2 separate regions of the Homo sapiens genome follow, and region 1 is linked to region 2. Evidence: fine-mapped expression QTL. A gene starts in region 2. The other region holds a variant in brackets. All regions are shown on one strand. Distances are from middle to middle.

The links.
Region 1: its variant is fine-mapped to the expression of PARP10 in whole blood (TOPMed, PIP 0.95).

What each region holds. Positions count from the first base shown.
Region 1 is chr8:143,927,967-143,933,320 of GRCh38, reverse strand. It overlaps PLEC (plectin), which reads left to right. Exons shown (of 32, transcript NM_201384.3): 13 at 1-124; 14 at 210-528; 15 at 609-686; 16 at 760-921; 17 at 1,087-1,191; 18 at 1,289-1,384; 19 at 1,662-1,787; 20 at 2,785-2,937; 21 at 3,023-3,177; 22 at 3,259-3,385; 23 at 3,492-3,675; 24 at 3,750-3,907; 25 at 4,040-4,218; 26 at 5,329-5,354. Among named protein-coding and RNA genes, the nearest start is that of PLEC, 9.0 kb to the left of the region's middle. RefSeq lists enhancers at 172-1,107, 4,332-4,581, 4,972-5,101 and a silencer at 4,716-4,845. The variant G/A (reference allele first, on the strand shown) is at 3,304.
Region 2 is chr8:143,984,382-143,989,735 of GRCh38, reverse strand. It overlaps PARP10 (poly(ADP-ribose) polymerase family member 10), which reads left to right and starts at 3,276. Exons shown (of 11, transcript NM_032789.5): 1 at 3,276-3,378; 2 at 3,503-3,681; 3 at 3,761-4,015; 4 at 4,088-4,324; 5 at 4,408-5,192; 6 at 5,305-5,354. The coding sequence starts at 3,377. RefSeq lists enhancers at 2,600-3,503, 3,174-3,613.

The DNA.
Region 1 (5,354 bases), 56 kb after region 2:
CACAGCGGGCGGGGGAGGTGGAACGGGACTTGGACAAGGCGGATAGCATGATCCGGCTGCTCTTCAACGACGTGCAGACCCTCAAGGATGGACGGCACCCGCAGGGCGAGCAGATGTACCGCAGGTGGGCCCCGCCCTGCCCTCCCTGAAGCCCAGGTACACACGGCCCCAGGCCCGCCAACACCTACCTGAGTCCTCTGCTGCCCCAGGGTGTACCGTCTGCACGAGCGCCTGGTAGCCATCCGCACCGAGTACAACCTACGGCTGAAGGCAGGCGTGGCGGCCCCTGCAACCCAGGTGGCCCAGGTGACTCTGCAGAGTGTGCAGAGGCGCCCCGAGCTGGAGGACTCCACTCTGCGCTACCTGCAGGACCTGCTGGCCTGGGTGGAGGAGAACCAGCACCGTGTGGATGGCGCTGAGTGGGGTGTGGACCTGCCCAGCGTGGAGGCGCAGCTGGGCAGCCACCGAGGCCTGCACCAGTCCATCGAAGAATTCCGGGCCAAGATCGAGCGGGCACGGAGTGACGAGGTGGGTGGCGCTGAGCGATGGGCAGTGCGGGGGTGGGCCGGGCCCAGCCACTGCAGACCTCACCGTCTCATCTGTTGCAGGGCCAGCTCTCCCCCGCCACCCGGGGTGCCTACCGTGACTGCCTGGGTCGGCTGGACCTGCAGTACGCCAAGCTGCTGGTGAGTGGGGGCAGGGCCAGCCGGGGGAGGTGGGTAGCCCGCGGCCTGCTGACACGCACCCTCCTGCCCACAGAACTCCTCCAAGGCCCGCCTCAGGTCCCTGGAGAGCTTGCACAGCTTTGTGGCAGCCGCCACTAAGGAGCTAATGTGGCTGAATGAGAAGGAGGAGGAGGAGGTGGGCTTCGACTGGAGCGACCGCAACACCAACATGACCGCCAAGAAGGAGAGCTACTCGGTGAGCGGTGGCCCAGCTGCCCTGAACCCCACAGCCCCCTCCCCAGCTGTGCCCTGGCCGTCCCCTATGGTCAGAGACCAGTGGGGGCCCTGGGTCGAGTTTGCTGGGAGCGTGGCAGAGCCGGGTGTGGCCGGCCGTCCCTGAGACCCTTTGCTCTGGTGCCAGGCGCTGATGCGGGAGCTGGAGCTGAAGGAGAAGAAGATCAAGGAGCTCCAAAATGCTGGGGACCGGCTGCTGCGGGAGGACCACCCGGCCCGGCCCACGGTGGAGGTGGGGCTCCCTGGGTAGGGGCGGGGCTGCGGGGGGGGCCGTGCCGGGTCCCCAGGCGGGGCGGGGCGGGGCCTGACCGGGACCTGCTGTCCCGCAGTCCTTCCAGGCGGCCCTGCAGACGCAGTGGAGCTGGATGCTACAGCTGTGCTGCTGTATCGAGGCACACCTGAAGGAGAACGCTGCCTACTTTCAGGTGAGAACCGGAGCCCCCTCCGCACTGTGGCTCAGCGGCAGCCTTGCAGGAGCCCCTGGACCCCCTCGGCAGCTCCAATCAGGAGCCCTCCTGTCTGCAGACGTTGCCAGCTGCTGCCTGCAGCCTGACCGGGGCCTTGGACAGGGGTGCTCCCCAGGCCTCCTGGGGGCTTTGCCACTCCTTCCTCAGTGCCCCCGTCTTGGGCCTGCCCTGGGACAACTGTGGGCTGGGGCTCTGGTCCCAGGTAGCCTGGCGTGACCCCCTCCCGCTGCCCCAGTTCTTCTCAGATGTGCGGGAGGCCGAGGGGCAGTTGCAGAAGCTGCAGGAGGCACTGCGTAGGAAATACAGTTGTGATCGCTCCGCCACCGTCACCCGGCTGGAGGACCTGCTGCAGGATGCCCAGGTGAGGGAGGGGGTGTGCAGGGGCGTGTCAGGAGGGGCTGGCCTGGAGTCTGGGCTGCACGGGTACTCTGGAGACTAGGGGGCAACTGGAGGGGCCAGCAGGAGTTGGGAGGCACCATGGGAGGTGTAGAGGTCAGCCGAAGCGGGAATGAGGCAGGATGTTCTGGGCTGCATGGGTACTCTGGAGACTAGGGGGCAACTGGAGGGGCCAGCAGGAGTTGGGAGGCACCATGGGAGGTGTAGAGGTCAGCCAAGGGGGGAATGAGGCAGGATGTGGGGAGCCGAGAGGCAGCCGGTCCAAGCCGGGCCGCCCCCATCTCCATAGCCACAGAGTGAGTGGAAGCCTGAAGTCAGCAGCTGCCGCCAGCCCTTGTGCTGTAGAAGGGGCACCGCCAGCCCTTGTGCTATAGAAGGAGCACTGCCAGCCCTTGTACTATAGAAGGGGCACCAGCTGTTTGGCCTGAGATCTGGAGCGGGCAGAGTGGAACTGGGCTTTGTGCTCTGGGAGCAGGGGTGGGATCACCCAGGAGGGCGGGTGCACAGTGGGGAGTGACAGGGAAGAGGGACTGGAGACTGAAATGGCCTCTGAGGTCGGCAGGGCTGGGCCGGGGGGAGAGCCGGCAGCTCCCAGGTGTGTGCCGTCCTGCGGCCTGGCCCCCGCAGAGGGGTGGGATGGGAGGAGGCAGTACCTTCTGCAGCCCGCAGGGGAGGGGCAAGGGGCGAGGGCATTGTAGGGACCAGAGCGTAGCTGGGAGGACATGGTGGGTGAGCTGGGGTGAGAGGAGGGTGCCCTGTCTGGGTTGGGAAGGAGCGAGGGTGCATGGGTCTGCTTGGGGCCAACCCCCGGGGCCTGTCCCAGCTATACCTCCTGCTTCCAAGTGCTGCCACCCCGGGAGCATCAGGAGGGCCCCACAGGCCTGGTCCCGGGGTCTGGGGGTGCCTGGGGCAGGCCTGTGGGTCTCCATGGCCCTCGTCTGGATGCTGCCCCTCCCCCACAGGACGAGAAGGAACAGCTGAACGAGTACAAGGGCCACCTCTCAGGCCTGGCCAAGCGGGCCAAGGCCGTCGTGCAGCTGAAGCCCCGCCACCCAGCCCACCCCATGCGGGGCCGCCTGCCCCTGCTGGCCGTGTGCGACTATAAGCAGGTGGAGGTGAGCGCAGGCCGGGGGTCCACTGGGGGGCGTGGCCAGGCAGGGCAGGGTGTGGCCATGTCCTCACCGACTCTGCCCGTCCCAGGTGACTGTGCACAAGGGTGACGAGTGCCAGCTGGTGGGCCCTGCACAGCCGTCCCACTGGAAGGTGCTCAGCAGCTCCGGCAGCGAGGCCGCCGTGCCCTCCGTGTGCTTCCTGGTGCCCCCGCCCAACCAGGAGGCCCAGGAGGCCGTCACCAGGTGGGTGGCGGGGGCTCAGCAGGTGGGGGCTGGAAGGCGGGTGGGGCGCTGGTGACGCTGACTGTAGCCCTGACCTGCCAGGCTGGAGGCCCAGCACCAGGCCCTGGTCACGCTGTGGCACCAGTT[G/A]CACGTGGACATGAAGAGCCTTCTGGCCTGGCAGAGCCTTCGCCGCGACGTGCAGCTCATCCGCTCCTGGTCCCTGGCCACGGTACGCCTGCCCCCGAGCCGGGGGCTCTCTGGGTGGGAGGAGGGGAGAGGCGTTGTGCAGGGCACGGCCGCCTCGCCCGGCACTCAGCCCCACGTGCTTCCCCCAGTTCCGCACCCTGAAGCCAGAGGAGCAGCGCCAAGCCCTGCACAGCCTGGAGCTGCACTACCAGGCCTTCCTGCGGGACAGCCAGGACGCGGGCGGCTTCGGACCCGAGGACCGGCTGATGGCTGAGCGCGAGTACGGCTCCTGCAGCCACCACTACCAGCAGCTGCTGCAGAGCCTGGAACAGGGTAGGGCACGGCAGGGCTGGGGCGGTTGGGCTGGTGCGAGGTGGGCGGTGGAGTGACCCACATGTGTTCCCCAGGTGCACAGGAAGAGTCTCGCTGCCAGCGCTGCATCTCCGAGCTCAAAGACATCCGGCTGCAGCTGGAGGCCTGTGAGACGCGCACCGTGCACCGCCTGCGGCTGCCGCTGGACAAAGAGCCGGCACGGGAGTGTGCCCAGCGCATCGCCGAGCAGCAGGCAGGGGCCGTCCCCCCCCATCCAGTCCCATCCCTCTCCCCATCCCTCCTCCCACCCTCCCTCCTTTGGCCTTCAAGGGGCGCTGTGTGCTGCGCTCGGTGATGAGTGCGTTCCCACTCCCTGTCTTTGCAGAAGGCACAGGCAGAGGTGGAGGGGCTGGGCAAGGGGGTCGCCCGGCTCTCTGCCGAGGCCGAGAAGGTCTTGGCCCTACCAGAGCCATCGCCTGCGGCCCCCACGCTGCGCTCGGAGCTGGAGCTGACGCTGGGCAAGCTGGAGCAGGTCCGCAGCCTGTCTGCCATCTACCTGGAGAAGTGAGTGCACCTGGCCACAGGCGAGGGGCTGGGGTCGGCTGGGGGGTGCTGGGGTGAGGGCTGTGACCTTGCAGGAGGGTGCAGGAGGGAACGAGTTGGGGGCTGTTCAGAGATCTGGCCAGGAGGCGGGAGGCCCAGCTGGGGTGGTGGCCGCAGAGGTGGTGAGAAGAGTTCAGGGCTGGATACGCTTCGACAGTGGCGGCCGGGGGACTTCCTGGTGATGAGATTCGGGTGTGGGGAAGAGACAGTGGAGCTGGGCAGCGGCTGCTGAGTGAGGTGGGGAAGCTGTGGATCCACTTTCAGTGGCACAGTAAGGAATCCTGCACCCTGCCTCTCGTCTGTCCTGTTCCTGGCCTGGACTTAAGGGCCTCTGGCATTTATTTCCAATGTGTTATGTCATAGTCTCTTCCTGTGTTGCAAACCACAGGTCCACCCGCTGTCTACTCCTCACAGAACCAGCACAGTGATAGGGCCGCCGCCTCTTCCTGTGTTGCAAACCACAGGTCCACCCGCTGTCTACTCCTCACAGAACCAGCACAGTGATAGGGCCGCCACCTCTTCCTGTGTTGCAAACCACAGGTCCACCCGCTGTCTACTCCTCACAGAACCAGCACAGTGATAGGGCCGCCGCCTCTTCCTGTGTTGCAAACCACAGGTCCACCCGCTGTCTACTCCTCACAGAACCAGCACAGTGATAGGGCCGCCGCTGGCTACCACAGGGTGCCATTTCCACCCCGGTGTCCCCTTCGCCCAGTCTTGGGCTGCAAGGGCTGAGAACTACGCTTCCAGGCCCTGTGGGCACCAGGATGCCGCTGTCATCCAGCCAGTGGGCTCGTCCTGTCTCGGGGCCTTGGGGTCTGCCGTTCCTGGCTGGCGCACCCCCTCTCCAGGCTGGGTCCTGAGTGTCCTTGTGTTACAGAGGCTCCCAACCTCCTTCTCCCCAAGGCTGTTCTTCTCCTGAAGCAAGCCTCTGACCACAGGGTCAGCTGACCCCCAGGGTTGGGTCTGGGCTTGGCAGGCAGCACCCTGGGTCGCTGTGGCTTGGGTTCCATTCCCTTGGGCTATTGCTCGAGCCCCATGTCATGGCCCTGAGCCCCGCTTTCCCGCCAGGCTCAAGACCATCAGCCTGGTGATCC
Region 2 (5,354 bases):
CAGATCTCTCCCAAATCAAGAAGCCTAATCCTTTAGTTCCCAAATCGAGGCCTCGTGGTTTAATTGCCCCATTTGCTCTGTCAGCCCAAACTCTGCCAGGCCTGCTACTAGAGACCCTTTTTTATTTTTTTAATTCTTGTGGATACATAGTAGGTGTATATTTACGGGCTACATGGGATGTTTTGATACAGGCATGCCATGGATAATAATCACATCAAGGTAAATGGGGTATCCATCAGCTCAGGCATTTTGTCCTTCGTGTTACAAACAATCCAGTTATACTCTTGGAGTTGTTTTAAAATGTACAATTATTCTTGACCACAGTCACCCTTTGTACTAACAAATACGATGTCTTGTTTTCACACTAGAGACCCTGAACGCTCGCTTGTCTGCCTAACGTCCTCACAAGCTGCGAGGGGCTGAGGCTTGGGGATGCAGCAGGACTGGAGGCCAGGCCACCTCCCTGCTTAGCTCCCAAGTCCTCTTGGGGGAGCAGTGACTGACACAGGCAGGGTACATCCTGCTGCCAGCCTTCCCACCCGGGGCCCAGACCCCACCTGCCCTCCCGCCCTTGGAGGGCCGGCCTCTCCCAGGCCGCTCTGAGTCCTGCACCTATGGTGCGCTGGCGCAGTGTTTAGCAGCCGGACCTAGTGAGGGGAAGCCTGGGGTGCGTGTTTTGCACATGCGCGTGGTGTGAATACTCCACCGGGGCTGGTTTCAAGTTACCCCCAGCTGGACAACCAGTCCACAGAAATTCCCGAAACTGTACCAGTCTGCTTGTGGTGTGAGTGGTGCCTGTGGCAGGCCCTCTGCAGCCAGGGTCGGCGTAATGGATAACCTGTGATGAGTTCCATTAGAGAAAACGTGGAAAAAGCAGGGATGGATTTACCCTTGTAGAAGGTAACTTCTACCTTTGTAGAAGCAGAAGCTCACAAAATTTGAGAGACCTTTAAGAAAAATAAAATGCTTGCTGGGCGCGGTGGCTTACGCCTGTAATCCCAGCACTTTGGGAGGCCGAGGCGGGTGGATCACAAGGTCAGGAGATGGAGACCATCCTGGCTAACACGGTGAAACCCCGTCTCTACTAAAAATACAAAAAAAAATTAGCTGGGCGTGGTGGTGTGCACCTGTAATCCCAGCTATTGGGGGGGCTGAGGCAGGAGAATGGCTTGAACCTGGGAGGCAGAGGTTACAGTGAGCTGAGATCGTGCCACCGCACTCCAGCCTGCGTAACAGAGTGTGACTCTGTCTCAAAAAATAAATAAATAAGTAAATAAAAATAAAATAGCTGGGTATGGTGGCTGGCACCAGTAATCCCAGCACTTTGGGAGGCTGAGGCAGGTGGATCATCTGAGGTCAGGAGTTTGAGACCAGTCTGCCCAATAGGGTGAAACCCTGTCTCTGCTAAAAATACAAAAATTAGCTGGGCATGGTGGTGCGTGCCTGTAATCCCAGCTACTTGGGAGGCTTAGGCAGGAGAATCCCTTGAACCCAGTGGGTGGACGTTGCAGTGAGCCGAGATCACGGCACTTCACTCCAGCCTGGGTGAAAGGGCGAAACTCCGTCTCAGAAAAAAAAAAAAAAAAGGCAGAGTAAGGGAGATCATGCCAGAGGGGTGGCCATGGGGGTTTGTGGGGAAGGTAGGGCCAAGCAGAGGGAAGGGCCAGTCCCAGGCTACTGAGGCAGGAGTGGCCTGTAGCTCTGCAGGAAGAGCTGAGAGCCTGGAGCCCTCTGAGCATCAGGGTGTGCAGGGGGCATGGGGCCAGAGAAGGGACTGAGGTCTGGTCAGGTGCAGCTGGGCAGGGGGCAGGTCCTCAAAAGGACTTTGGGTTTTTGTTTTTTTTTTAGACAGAGTCTCACTCTATCACCTTGGTTGGAGTGCAGTGGCACGATCTCAGCTCACTGCAACCTCCACCTCCCAGGTTCAAGCTATTCTCCTGACTCAGCCTCCTGAGTAGCTGAGATTATAGGCACCTGCCACCATGCCCGGCTAATTTTTATATTTTTAGTAGAGACAGGGTTTTACCATGTTGGCCAGGCTGATCTCAAACTCCTGACCTCGTGATCCACCTGCCTCAGTCTCCCAAAGTGCTGGGATTACAGGCATGAGCCACTGCGCCCGGCCCCCAGGACTTTGGTTTCTACTGTTGCTGATGCTGGGAGCTGTAGCAGCTGCTGGTGTCATTTTACAAGGCTCACCCTGACACCTCTGTTGAGGACCCACCATGGGAGTGGCAGACAGAGACTAGTTAAGAGGTTAGCCTAGCTACCTAGCGAGAGATGCTGGAGGCTGGGACCAGGGTCGGGGCAGCAGAGGTGTGGCATGTGCAGGGCTAGGAGTGCAGGCTGGCCAGGGTCCTCAGCTCCCTGGAGGGAGGAACAGCAGGGGTGGGGCTGGGTTTTGGTGGGCTGAGGGGTGAGTGGGAAGTAGGAGATGGAGAGTGGTAGTGGCCACAGCTCTTTGAAAGGCTGGAAGCAAACGGAGCTTGGGTGATGTGGGAGATCTGTGGCGAGTGGGAGTGTGGACTCTGAAGGCACCGCCCAGGTTTGAGGCCTGGTGCTGCTATGGGCCTGTCTGCACCTCCGTTTCCCTTTCTGTGGTGAGGATTAGCGGCAGCAAGGAATGCAGTGGAGCCATTACCTTGTCACCTTCTGAGGTTACTTGTGACGATGCCAATGATGGTGTGAGATGGGGAGGTGCAGGCAGGACAGAAAGCTGCAGGAATGGGCAGGCAAGACCTGAGGCGGGAGGAAGGCTGTGCTGCAATGCACATTCTTGGAGACCAAGGGTGGGGAACCGCCCATGCTCAGCACCTGGCAGGTGTGAGGGACCAGGAGCAGGGTTGAGAAGGTTGCTGGGGGCGTTGAAGGCCAGCCTTGGCCGGGGGCGGGCCTGGAGACCCAGCACTTTGTGTGCAGAGGGTGTCATGGACACAGAGGCTTGGAGATCCTGAGTGAGGGGCAGTGACTCAGGCCCCTTGGTGGGTTTAGTGGGGCGGGTGATTGGCCATTTTCAGGCCATGGAGGCCAGGGGAGTGGAGGGCCACCAGGGGACACTCCTGTCTACCCTGCCAACCAGGGGCTGGAGTGGGCCAGGTAGGGCCGGTGGGCTGGGCTGGGTTGGCTGGAGGGTCCTGAGGGGTCCAGCCTGGCCAATACCTCCTGGTCAGCTGGGGGTTGAGGCTGCAGCAGGAGAGGAAGCATCTGAGCCCCAGTACCCAGGCCTCAGCGCCCAGGGCCCAGCTGCTCCCTCCCTCCTTCCGTCTTTCAGTTTCACTTTTGTTTTCCTGCTCCCAGCAGGGTTAGGCTTGCTGAGGGGCAGGCACAGGAGTCCTGGCTGAGCTCATGGCCTGAGGCTGCCTAGCGGCCACGGGGAATGTAAGTGCTGTATGTGGGGCCACCCATAATGGGGGAGCATTGAGGACACACCTTGGAGGGGCCTGGGGAGGGGCAGGAGGGGTGGAATGGGCTGTTTCCCTACCCACCTGATGCCCCGTCCCAGGGTTGCAATGGCGGAGGCAGAGGCAGGGGTGGCAGTGGAGGTCCGTGGACTGCCCCCTGCCGTGCCCGACGAGCTGCTCACTCTCTACTTTGAAAACCGCCGACGCTCTGGAGGGGGACCTGTGTTGAGCTGGCAGAGACTGGGCTGTGGGGGCGTCCTCACCTTCAGAGAGCCTGCAGGTGAGAGGGCTGGCTGAAGGGACAGCCTGGGTGCCCTGATATTCTAATGCCTGACATCCTGCCCCGCCCCTGCCCACAGACGCCGAGAGGGTCTTGGCCCAGGCAGATCACGAACTACATGGTGCCCAGCTGAGCCTGCGGCCAGCTCCACCACGAGCCCCTGCACGCCTGCTGCTCCAAGGACTGCCCCCTGGCACCACGCCCCAGCGCTTGGAGCAGCATGTCCAGGCCTTGCTGCGGGCCTCGGGGCTCCCAGTACAGCCTTGCTGTGCCTTGGCCAGCCCCCGGCCAGACCGGGCTCTGGTCCAGTTGCCCAAGCCCCTTTCTGAGGCAGGTGAGAGGCAGGGTTGGGGTTGAGGTGCTGGCTAGGGGGGATTCCCTGAGCTGACCTGCACATACCCCACAGATGTCCGTGTCCTGGAGGAGCAGGCCCAGAATCTGGGCCTGGAGGGGACCTTGGTGTCCCTGGCCCGGGTTCCCCAGGCCCGAGCGGTGCGTGTGGTGGGGGATGGTGCCTCTGTGGACCTGCTGTTGCTGGAGTTGTACCTGGAGAATGAGCGCCGCAGTGGTGGGGGGCCCCTGGAGGACCTGCAACGCCTACCCGGGCCCCTGGGCACTGTTGCCTCCTTCCAGCAGTGGCAAGGTGAGTGGGGCTGGGCAGACCCAGCCGACCGTCCCTCTCCTGCAGAAATCTGACAGGCTTTCTGTCCTTTCCCTTCCTCCAAGTGGCAGAACGAGTGTTGCAGCAGGAGCACCGGTTGCAGGGCTCAGAGCTGAGCCTTGTCCCCCACTACGACATCCTGGAGCCCGAGGAGCTGGCTGAGAACACCAGTGGAGGGGACCACCCGTCCACCCAGGGGCCTAGGGCTACCAAGCATGCTCTCCTGAGGACCGGAGGGTTGGTGACGGCTCTGCAGGGTGCAGGGACTGTGACAATGGGCTCTGGCGAGGAACCAGGGCAGTCAGGGGCCTCTCTGAGGACAGGTCCCATGGTGCAGGGTAGAGGGATTATGACAACAGGCTCTGGCCAGGAACCAGGGCAGTCAGGGACCTCTCTGAGGACAGGTCCCATGGGGTCTCTGGGACAGGCAGAGCAAGTCAGCTCGATGCCCATGGGGTCTCTGGAACATGAGGGGCTGGTAAGCCTGAGGCCTGTGGGGTTGCAGGAACAGGAGGGGCCCATGAGCCTGGGGCCTGTGGGGTCTGCAGGCCCAGTGGAGACCTCTAAGGGGTTGCTGGGGCAGGAGGGCCTGGTGGAAATTGCCATGGACTCACCAGAGCAAGAGGGGCTGGTGGGTCCCATGGAGATCACCATGGGGTCTCTGGAGAAGGCAGGGCCTGTGAGCCCAGGATGTGTGAAGCTGGCAGGGCAGGAGGGCCTGGTGGAGATGGTGCTATTGATGGAGCCAGGGGCGATGCGCTTCCTGCAGCTCTACCATGAGGACCTTCTTGCGGGCCTGGGAGACGTCGCTCTCTTGCCACTTGAAGGACCGGATATGACTGGCTTTCGGGTGAGTGACCCCTCAGGACTCCTCACCTTCAGCCCCCTCCTCCTACTGGGGACTCAAAGTACCTTTCCTGTGCTCTAAACCTGCAAACTCCATCTCTGCAATGGCCCTGCAGCTCTGTGGAGCCCAGGCTTCCTGCCAGGCGGCTGAGGAGTTTCTGCGGAG